2 separate regions of the Homo sapiens genome follow, and region 2 is linked to region 1. The links come from fine-mapping of genetic effects on gene expression. A gene starts in region 1. The other region holds a variant in brackets. All regions are shown on one strand. Distances are between the middles of the regions. Region 1 holds the start of OSBPL2 (oxysterol binding protein like 2). Region 2 overlaps OSBPL2 (oxysterol binding protein like 2).

Region 1 (5,516 bases):
AGTGAGCCGAGTTCGCGCCACTGCACTCCAGCCTGGGCGACAGAGCGAGACTCCATCTCAAAAAAAAAAAAATTCCAAGACCCATCTGCTGGCATCTCCTGGACGGCACAGAGGAGAGACACTGGGATGAAAGTCAAGTGGCATTTTTTTCACATTCAAACAGCACCTCTCATTAACATGTGGAACACAGCAGAGTCTGACCCTCTCAACGCACTCGAGGCGTGGAAGAAAAATGTCCTACGTGTGTACTCTAAGGCAGTGTGTGAAGTCCCCTGGAACTGAACTCAGAACGGAGACCTCAGAGTCTGGACTGTACGCCTGTCAGCACCCATGCCCCTCAGTCCTCCCTCTTCACACAGAGACCACCACTGAATCTGCCAGTAACAAAGGAGCTGGGTGGCAGGGAAGGTATTCTGGCAAAATCCTGAATGGTCAAACGGTAAATTACTTTATTTCAGAAAAAATGAAATGGCTTTGTAAACACTCAGGCTCACAAAAAAGAAAGTCTATTAGTTCTATATGTAGCAAAATCCCGAAATTCTGACACAGAGTAATGCAGCATGATTAGAATATTCTAAACGAAAATGTTAAATGAAAATCTTGATATTAAAAGGCAGTACAGGGTAGTGTTTAAGAGTGTGAACCCTGGAGCCTGGGTTCAAATCCATATTTCATAATTTACTGCTGTGTGGTTTAGGTAAGTTACTTAACCTCTCTGTTCCTTAGCTTCCTCATGAATGAACTAAGGATAATGTCAGTACCTGCCCAGTGGACTGTTGTGAAGATCACACAAAGAAAGTGAATACGACATGCTCGTAACAGTCCTGGAACAATCATTATTAAATATTATCGTCTGCTGGGGTAAGAGCTGTCATTAATAGATGGACACATGAAGAAAACAGGGTAAATTCTATGAGGGAGACTCAGTCACTCACTCACTCATTGCCACATTCTAAAAGACGACACTGTGGCAGGCACTGGGCTGGGCAGGGAGGAAGTGCCACCGACAAAGTTCCTGTCCTCAACAAGGGGAAGGTAACTGGCATTCCGGGGTGCGCACTAGGTGTCAGAGACTGTGGTAGAAAATGATTTCATGGCAGGGCGCGGTGGCTCGCACCTGGAATCCTAGCACTTTGGGAGGCTGAGGCAGGCGGATCCCTTGAGGTTAGGAGTTCGAGACCAGCCTGGCCAACATGGTAAAACCCCATCTCTACTAAAAATAAAAAAATTAGGCGGGCGTGGTGGCCGGCGCCTGTGGTCCCAGCTAGATGGGAGGCTAAGGCAGGAGAATGGCTTGAAGCCGGGAGACGGAGGTGGCAGTGAGTCAAGATCGCACCACTGCACTCCAGCCTGGGCAACAAAGCGAGACTCCATCTCAAAACATAAAACAAGAAAATGATCTCGTTTGCTTCTCTTATCAGCAAAGTGCTACATGTCCGGATGAAGGAGTTGAGGCTGACAGCCAGAAAAGAGGCCATGGGCACGAGTTAGGAAGGGCAGCAGGGACGGCCGTGGCTTCCCAGCATGTGGCCCCTGCACCAGTTCCGGGCTCCTCAACTCTCCGCTGTCCTCACCACACATCCAGCTGGTGGGAAGGCCGCACAGCACCCAGCCAGGCCCACAGCAGGCATTCGAGAAACGTCTATCCAACCAAACCGAATGGGACCCCTTCTCCAGGTGTTCCGGGCAGTCATCCCAAAGCTGCCGGAGCCAGGCTAGGCCAGGGCCTGTCCTAGAGGACGGTTCAGATAGAAACGCCCCTGGGAGGTGACCCTCACCCCAGGAGAGCCTGCAACACCCCGACACCCACTGCCTCGTCGCCGGTCCTCCCATGAAGCGGGGAGGCTGAGGTGCTGTGACGACCTAACAGTCTTGGTCTGGGCTTATAAACTTGGAAAGTCTAAAGACGTATTCTTCTGAGTACCAAAATATAACTGGCGAAAGAAGGAACCTCTTAAAATTACATTACCAAAGATAGGTTTTAGGTAGCAAGTTCTCAACCGTGTGTAGTCTGCTAAGATTTATAAATTAAAAACAAAAACAGAGCCCAGGGGAACGGACAAGGGCTCGCGGGCACCCTCCCCGGGACGACGTGCACACAGGCCTGCGGGACAAGAAGGCCAGGGTCGGAGTGGGACTGCGTCTCCCTGCCCTTCTTCCCGGCGGAACTCGCCCTCCTCACCTACAGGATCGCCCTAAATGCGCACGAAATCCTTCCCTGTTCCCGGTGAGGTGGTGAGAGAGGGCGAGGCCGCGAGCAGGTGCGCCCGTCCCCACTTCCTGCTCAGCGGGGCAGCAGGGGGGCTGGGGATCTCGGGGGGGCCGGGCCGGGGGTCCCGGGATCGCAGTTGCCGGGCGACCGCAGGGGGAAGGGTGCGGGGGCCGCGGGACCCAGGCCCAGGCCCCACGCCCGGCCGGAACTTTCCTCCCAAAGTTTCCCCGGGGCGCCAGGCTGCGGCCTAGGCCGGGCGCGCCTCCCAGTGGGGGTCGAGGCCGGGGCCGGGGCCGGGGCTGGAGGCGGCCTGCGGACCCGGGTCCTGCCCGGCCCGCCCTCCCCTCCCCGCCCCGGCTCCAGCCCCAGCCCGCGGCCCAGGCCCCGCAGCTCGCCGGGGTCCCGGGCCTTCGCGTGGCGGCGGCGGGGGCCACTCACCTGGACGCGGGTCCCTCGGTTGCCGGCCGAGCTCACTGCCGCCCCGCCCCCGCCCCGTAGGCCCGCGACCCACTGACACCGAGGCGGAAGTGCGGCCCGCCGCCTCGCCGACTGACAGCCCGCGCCCGCCACTCGCTGCGCCCGGCGCCGCCGCGTCGGCCGCTGCCTGCCCAATCAGCGCCCGGCCCGAGGCTCGCGCCGGGGGGTGGGACTATGCTAATCCCTTCGCGAAGGGCCTCTACCTGTGCCCCCTCAGAGCCCCGCCCACGCAGCGGAGTGACGGCAAGGACAGCCAGTCACAGCAGGAGAGAGGCGGGGTTATGCCGCCCCTGAGCCAAAAGGGGAGGGAGGCAAGGAGGAAAGGGCGTGGCTGCAGAGAGCAGAGTTGACAAACAGTGAGTCAGGTGGCCCGGGGCGTGGGTGCTCCGCCCTCAGGTGCACTGCGTCCTGGCGGCAGTGCGGGCCTGCGAGGCTACCCAAAGCCCTGGGGGCTTTTTCCTACAAATGCTGGGGACCGTGCGATAGCTGGGGCGTAGCTGCTTCCACTGTCCTACCAAATCCTGAATATCGTCCACCTCCTTTGCATGCCATTCACCGCCAACCAAAATCCAGCGCCAATTTACCCCTCCAGCTGCATCCCCGACCGTTTCACCACCATACTTAAAACCCTTTGGACTCCCACTGACCTACAGTGGCTCCAGGGTTAAGCCCAGAAGTTCTGGAATCAGACCTGGAGCTTGCATTCTTTACCAGCTGTGTGGATTTGGACAAATTAATTAACCTCTCTGAGTCTGTGATCACTCAGTTTCATCTGCAAACCAGGGTTCCCCTGTCAACATCTCATTGAAGTCATGGGTCTGGTTTGAGGTGAGTGGAGTGGCATAAACCAGGCTGGCTACATAGTCACAGCAGTTGGTTTAGGGGTCAGCCTGTGACCCAGTTCTAGCCAAAGAGGCTCAGTCCTGGGACTTTTGCTGTAGGGTCAGAGTTCAGACCGGAGGGGAGGCTGAAGTCAAATGACTCTCCCATCTGCCCACAGACCTCTCCAGAGCTGGGTTAGGTGAGAGAGGGAAGGGGCCAGTCTTCCACATCTCACTACCCGAGAACAGGGCTGCACGAGAATGAAGCCAGCCCAGAGGAAAGCCGGAGCAACCACGGCCGGGTCACGTGGACCCTGCTGCACCTCAGCAGGTCCTTTCCTTGACTTTTCAGTTACGTGAACCACATGCTTGTTTCTGCTTCAGCCCATTTGAGGTAAAGCCAAGAGTCCTGGGCTTCCTGTGGCCTTGAGAGCTCTGGCAGATGACCCGTGACCCCGCAGTGCGTCCTGCAGCAAAGCCAGCCCCCGTTGGGCCTCTGCACCCCCTCCTCAGGCCTTGTCTCCCCACTTCCAGGCTGCCCCTAGCAGGGCCATGGAGGCAGGGACAGGCCTTTGCCCCATCTGTGGCCCCGTGGCAGACGTGGGTACTCTCTATAAATTTCAGGGCATGAGTGAGCCAATGAACGTGGCCTCTGTGGCAGGGGTGGGGCCCAGGCCACATCTCTGGGCCCAGCAGGGCCGTTCTCCCCCACCCCAGGGGCTGGCCCCACTCACTGGTGGGCCACTGTCAGTCGGCGCCACTAGAGACGTGCCGGGACCAGGAAGGAGCTGGCTGAGCCTCTCCTGAAGAGAGAACGGGGAGGAGGGCGGGCAGGCCTCAGAAACAAAGGGGTTGCCATGGTTACCTCTGAAGAAAGCGACTCCAGCCGGTGAAAGGGAAGGGAAGGCGTGCGGCCCCCAAGCCAGGACAAGGACGATGAGGCCAGTTGCCACGGAGATGACTGCGCTCCACAGCTTTCCCTGTGGGCCTTGCCAGGGCCAGCTCAGGGTCCCAGAAACCCATCACTCTCCATGTCCCTCACCCTAAGTCTCTAAGACTCTAACCCCTGTGCCCTTGAGGGGATCCAACCTGCCCACCCACCCCTTGACCACGAGCTCTGCAGTGAGGGCAGCCTCAGAGGCTCAGGCAGAAGGACCCTCTCATCTGCCCAGGGACCACCCCAGGGCCAAGCAGGGAGATCCACCCTGGCCTTGGGGTTGGGGGTGTGATCTCAGATGGCCCCTGGGCTGGAGCAGGGGTTTCACCCCTCTCCACAAATGCAGTAACTGAGCTTCAAGGGTAGTCTGCCGTCAGCCAGCACTGCTGGAGACGTGCCAGGACTGGGAAGGGTACTTCCTCCCCGGGGCCAGTTGCTGGGACTAGGCGAGAATCCTCCCTCAGTTGGTGGGTAGTAAGGAGGGTGCCTTGAGACCAACTTAGGCGTCTTTGTTATGATCTTTACTAGGTCACGAGGCCAATTCAAGAGGCACAGTTCTCCAAGGATGGAAGATGGGGGTGGAGAAGGCAACAAAGATGGATGAGCTGGGGCCATGATGATGAGGATGATGATGTTGATGATGATGATGGTGATGGCGGCCGAGTGCCCTGTGATTTACAGGCCCATCTGGTTTCATGTTTGCAACAGCCAATCAAGTGGGTACCAGGTGCCATCATTCCCACTTTACAGATGAGAAGACTGAGCCCCAGACAGGTTAAGTGACTCCCCCAGCCCTGCAATGAGGAAGGGCCCAGCACAGCTCCAGGCACAACAAGCAGGCACTCCAAGCATAGGGAGGTCTGGTGGACCAGGCCTGGCCCAGGAGCTTGTCGGCAAGGCAGAGCCGCATCCAGGCTCCCGGACCAGGATCCGCACACGAACAACAGGCCCAGGAGTTCCCATGGCTGTGGCTGCTGGACCCCCGCACCAGGTGGGCTGGCGGCTGTGTCCCACACATGCTCTCTAGAGCCTGAGAAATGCTCATCCTGCAGGTGATTTGGGGGGTGTC
Region 2 (5,000 bases), 35 kb before region 1:
AACTGCACTTCTTGGAACCCAAGATGCCATTCATTGCACTGCACACCATTATTTTATGAAAGAAAGAAAAAAATGCTGCAAATGAAACTATGACTTGGACTGGGCACAGAGGCTCACACCTGTAATCCTAGCACTTTGGGAGGCTGAGGGAGGCAGATCACTTGAGCTCAGGAGTTCAAGAGCAGCCTGGGCAACACAGCAAAACCCTGTCTCTACTGAAAATACAAAAATTAGCTGGGCATGGTGGCGCACGCCTGTAGTTCCAGCTACTTGGGAGGCTGAGGTGGGAAGATAACTTGAGCCCAGGAGGTCGAGGCTACAGTGAGCTGTGATCATATCCAGGAGGTTAAGGCAGGAGGTCGAGGCTACAGTGAGCCGTGATCATGTCACTGAACTTCAGCCTGGGCGACAGAGTGAGACCTCGTCTCAAAAAAAAAAAAAGGAACAAGAAACTGACATGTAGAAGTGCTGCCACGTGAACAAGGCGTCTTAGAATCGATGAAACACTCTAATTTAGAAAAAGTTTTTAATGTCACAGGAAAATTATGACATGTTAAAAAGGGATACAAATTAAATTATCATATTTTGAAACACACACAAAAGAAAGTCTAACAAAATGCTGACAGTTCCTCTCATTTTTTTTAAAGAGACACGGTCTGGCTCTGTAGTCCAGGTTAGAGTTCAGTGGCACGGTCACTGTAACTGAACTCCTGGGCTCAAGTGATGCTCCTGCCTCGCCTCCTGAGTTGCAGGTATTCCAGGCGTGAGCCCAGCCAGCTATTGTCTTGTATGGGATTATGCCTGATTCATCTTTTCTACCTTTCTCAATGTTACACATTTTCTATAAAGAGCACTCTCTCGTAATTAAAAAAACAAACAGACTTCATAATAAAATAACCCAACAGAATCTCAACTAACCCAGAATCCAAATAAGAGGCTAATTGTTTTGGCTCAACTCCCTTTTTCACAGAAAAATAATAAAACAAGATGATAAAGGAGCCCGCCTTCCCTCCCGTCTGCACTCTGTTCCTGGGCAGGGAGGCGTGCAGCCCAGCAGCCTGTGGCAAACAGCTTGCATTCTGCACAGCAGACTTGTCTAGATAACCACCCACGCCCCTCCAGCTCCTTCTCCCCAGGCAGGCGGAGCGAGCTCTGTGTGCTGGGCTCCACTGACAGTCAGAAGAGTGAAGGGTGTCCCACCAGCAAGCTCCTTCTTCCCAGAGTGAGCTCTGTGTGCTGGGCTACCTCGACAGTCGGAAGACTGAAGGGTGCAGCGAGAGTGCCCTGCCCCTCCCTCCTTCAGAACCACAGCTTAGCCCTGTCACAGAGACAGCAGCTGAACTGTGCTCTGCTGACTCTCCCTACACATCTGCCCATGGGCACCTGCATGCATCTACAAGAGAATGACGGGGTCCACGGGCAGTGGAATAAAAATCATTTTAGACATCACCAAACGGCCCTGAAGGAAGCCACCCACATCCCTCTCATCCACAGCTCCCCGGAGCCCCAGCCAGGCTGCTCAATGGCTGAGGAATTACCACACTGCCACATACATGCCATGGTCTGGCCTGCTTTTGACTTCATTTGTTGGTGTGGGTGGGCACTGTCACCTGGGCAGAATCCCAGGATGATTCTGTGAATAACCACAGCAGTCCCCAGGGCAACCAGGTGGGTGAAGAGAACCCCAACCAGTCCTTCCAGAGGCCCAGCCACAAACAACGGATCTGGGGCCCGGCTGGACCTCTGGGGTCAGAGTTCTAGGACTTGGAGTCAGTCTCACGTCTGTGAGGTGAGGGCCACCAGAGACAGGAGGGAAGCTGGGGAGACTCTAGGAAGGGATGGCAACGCTGCCTAGAAGAAAGTTCCATAGGAAGAAGTTTCAGGGATGTCTGGAGATGAGGCGTGGTCTGGTTAACTCTCCCTTGGCCAGAGCCGTCTGACCCTTCCTAAAACTCTGGGGAGGCTGTGGTGGCAAACGTGGCCTTGGGAGTGAAGCTCCTCTTTGCAATCATTCCTGTGTTTGGATTTACCTGCTTTTTCAATAGCGTTCACTAAATGCTTTAGT[G/A]AAACAGCCTAGTTTTGCTCATTAGTACCTATTTCCATTTTCGGTGAAGCTCACAACAATCCTACACATTTCACAGACGTCGCACACACACACGGAAGCGTCTACAGTGCGCGCTATCTCCACGCTTGAGTCGAACACACTAAAATATCTCATTGCCAGCGCTTTACACTCACTCAGACGCCGTGGCACGCTAGCACAACACCCCGTGTGTGTGAAACATCTCGCCTACAGCATCCAAACGCTTTCGTGAGCTCTTAATTCAAACAGTTTATTCTCAGAGCAGAGGAATCAATGCTAGTGAAAGAATCAAACTTATCTGTCATCCAAGGAATTCCATTTACAAGATATTTATGATGGGCCTTTCCCCCCTTACCTGATTAATTCATACGTTTCTCCCAAGAGTGGATTAAATGGTTTGCCGGTCCTCTCCCACTGGGAAGCCACAGCCGAAACAGCAAAAGCAGCCACAGACTGTAAATAATCCACGGGGGGGACAGGCACAGCTTCAGTTAGGAAACGCGCTGGAGAAGATGGCCTCTTGTGGAGGGCGGTGGGCACCTGGTTTCTGTCACTATTTGTTCCGTGTGCGTTTTCAGTTTTCCCCGAGCAGTGTGTCTGAGATTATAGGACTTCCAGGGAATGCCCTTCATCACCCGCCACTCCCCCGACAGCACAGAAAGAAGGAACTGGGTGCTGCCTTCCACCCCCGGAGCCAGGCCCTTCTGGCAGATGCTGCAGCAATGTCAGCCACTCCGTCTGATATGCACACACAAGGCCACACACTCAACACACACACCCCAAGCACTCATTCACAGAGGCATGCGCACACACGTGCACACGTTATGTGCACCCACAGTCACACACTTGTATTTTGTTATTTTTTAGACACAGGGTCTCACTCTGTCACCCAGGCTGGAGTGCAGTGGCGTAATCGTGGCTCACTGTAGCCTCTAGCTCCTGGGCACAAGCGATCCTCTCTCATCAGCCTCCCAAGTAGCTGGCATTGCAGGCATGCAACACTGCACCTGGCTAAGTTTTAAAAAATTTTTGTAGAGATGCGGTCTCACTGTGTTGCCTCAGCTGGTCTCAACCTCCAGGAGCAATTCATCCACCTCAGCCTCCCGAAGTGTTGGGATTACAGGCATGAGCCACCGTGCGTGCCCAGCCCACAGTCACACACATGCACACACATGGGGTGCGGTGGTGCAACAGGACCCAAGAGAAGCCCAAGGGCAGAGCCCACCGCCACCTTCAGCTCCAAGAGGCGGAGTCTCCCGGCAGGAGGCGGCAGCAGGGAGCTCTTGGGGCCACTGAGAGCTCAATGGCATTTCCGGCAAGTTCTGTCATCACACACCTGTGGTGACAGGACAAATGCCACGACCGCCAGGCAGGATGGCACTGAACACTGGGGGGAGCTGTGCGAGTCCTCACAGATGCCTGGGGCCCCAAGACTGTGTGGCCAGACATGCAAGGGGCATCACTTTCATGACAAACTCCTGCCTGGCACCCCTAAGGCCCACCTGCATCCTCTCCAGGGGCTGGGGCTGGCAGGAGGCCCTGTGGATGAGGTACACGTGCTCCATGTACTCCGTGATCCGCTGCAAGAAGCTCAGAGGCTCGTTGAAGGCGATTGGCATCGTGATCTTGGACAGCTCCTGGAAAGATGGGGAAGACTCGCTGGTTACTGCTGCCTTCCTGACACCGCTGGGCTGCCCGATGCCCCTGCTCTGAGCATCCCTTCATGGAGCCGCAGCCTCTGGGGTTGAACCGGATCTTCAAACCCCCCATGGGTGAGCCACTCCCTGCCCCATCGGCCCTGCCCTGTGAGCCTCAGCTGCCATCAGACCTGACACACAATCTGTGCTGAGCCTGCAGAGGTCTCTGGCATGACACCCCTGAATCCTCTCTGCCTCCCCAGCCCACCGCCCCATTCCAGACACAGAGACTGCCACAAGGGCTCTTGGGCCCACCTGCGCCCCCTCCCCTACTCCACATCTTCTCCACCCCACTTCCAGAGTAGTGGTCCCAGGCTGGGCACGGTGGCTCACACCTAAAATCCAAGCACCCTGGGAGGCCGAGGCGGGTGGATCCCTTGAGGTCAGGAGTTCAAGACCAGTCTGGCCAACACAGCGAAACCCTGTCTATACTAAAAATTCAAAAATTAGCTGTGCATGGTGGCGCACACCTGTAATCCCAGCTACTCGGGAGGCTGAGGCAGGAGAATCGCTTGAACCCAGGAGGTGAAGGTTGCGGTGAGCCGATATTATGCTATTGCCCTCCAGCCTGGGAGACAGAGCCAGACTCCGTCTCAAAAACAAAAAAACAGAGTAGTGGTCCCAGGCAGAGCCACCCACGCCGTTAAAAATAGTCCCTGGCTTCCCGTCCCTCCAGGATGCCTCGGACACACCTGAACCTGGCAAATGAGGCCTCCCATAACATGGCTCCATGTGGCTTTCCCCTAAGGCCTTCCGAGTTGGCAAAGGAGTCTCAGGTGTCTGCTCCCAGGCCCTGGACGGCAGGGCGCATGGCTTAGTGGGGGAAGCTGGGAAGGTGCCAAGGGGACGAGTGCCCACAGGGGCCACTCTTCCCACCGGGCTTCCAGGAAAGGGATCCCAAGGGCAGTAGGCATTCCAGGGAAACACAGCTGTCACCTCAGGGCAGGCTCTTCAGGAAGGAGCAGGGTCTGGGGTGGGCAAAGCAGAGGCAGAGGGAGAGGGACAAGGAGAGAAGGAGAGGACCAGAGAGACCAGAAAGGGACAAGGAAAGGACCCAGAGAGGCCAGAGAGGGACAAGGAGAGGACCCAGAGAGGCCAGAGAGGGACAAGGAGAGGACCCAGAGAGGGACAAGGAGAGGACCCAGAGAGGCCAGAGAGGGACAAGGAGAGGACCCAGAGAGGCCAGAGAGGGACAAGGAGAGGACCCAGAGAGGGACAAG

What was found.
Region 2: its variant is fine-mapped to the expression of OSBPL2 in blood mononuclear cells (TOPMed, PIP 0.93).

The regions. Positions count from the first base shown.
Region 1 is chr20:62,235,732-62,241,247 of GRCh38, reverse strand. OSBPL2 (oxysterol binding protein like 2) reads right to left here and starts at 2,727. Exons shown (of 14, transcript NM_144498.4): 1 at 2,651-2,727. LOC105369209 (a long non-coding RNA gene) reads right to left here. Exons shown (of 4, transcript NR_160555.1): 4 at 4,947-5,516. RefSeq lists an enhancer at 978-1,902 and a silencer at 2,600-2,999.
Region 2 is chr20:62,270,845-62,275,844 of GRCh38, reverse strand. OSBPL2 (oxysterol binding protein like 2) reads right to left here. Exons shown (of 14, transcript NM_144498.4): 5 at 3,586-3,720; 6 at 2,439-2,536. Among named protein-coding and RNA genes, the nearest start is that of ADRM1, 30 kb to the left of the region's middle. The variant G/A (reference allele first, on the strand shown) is at 2,066.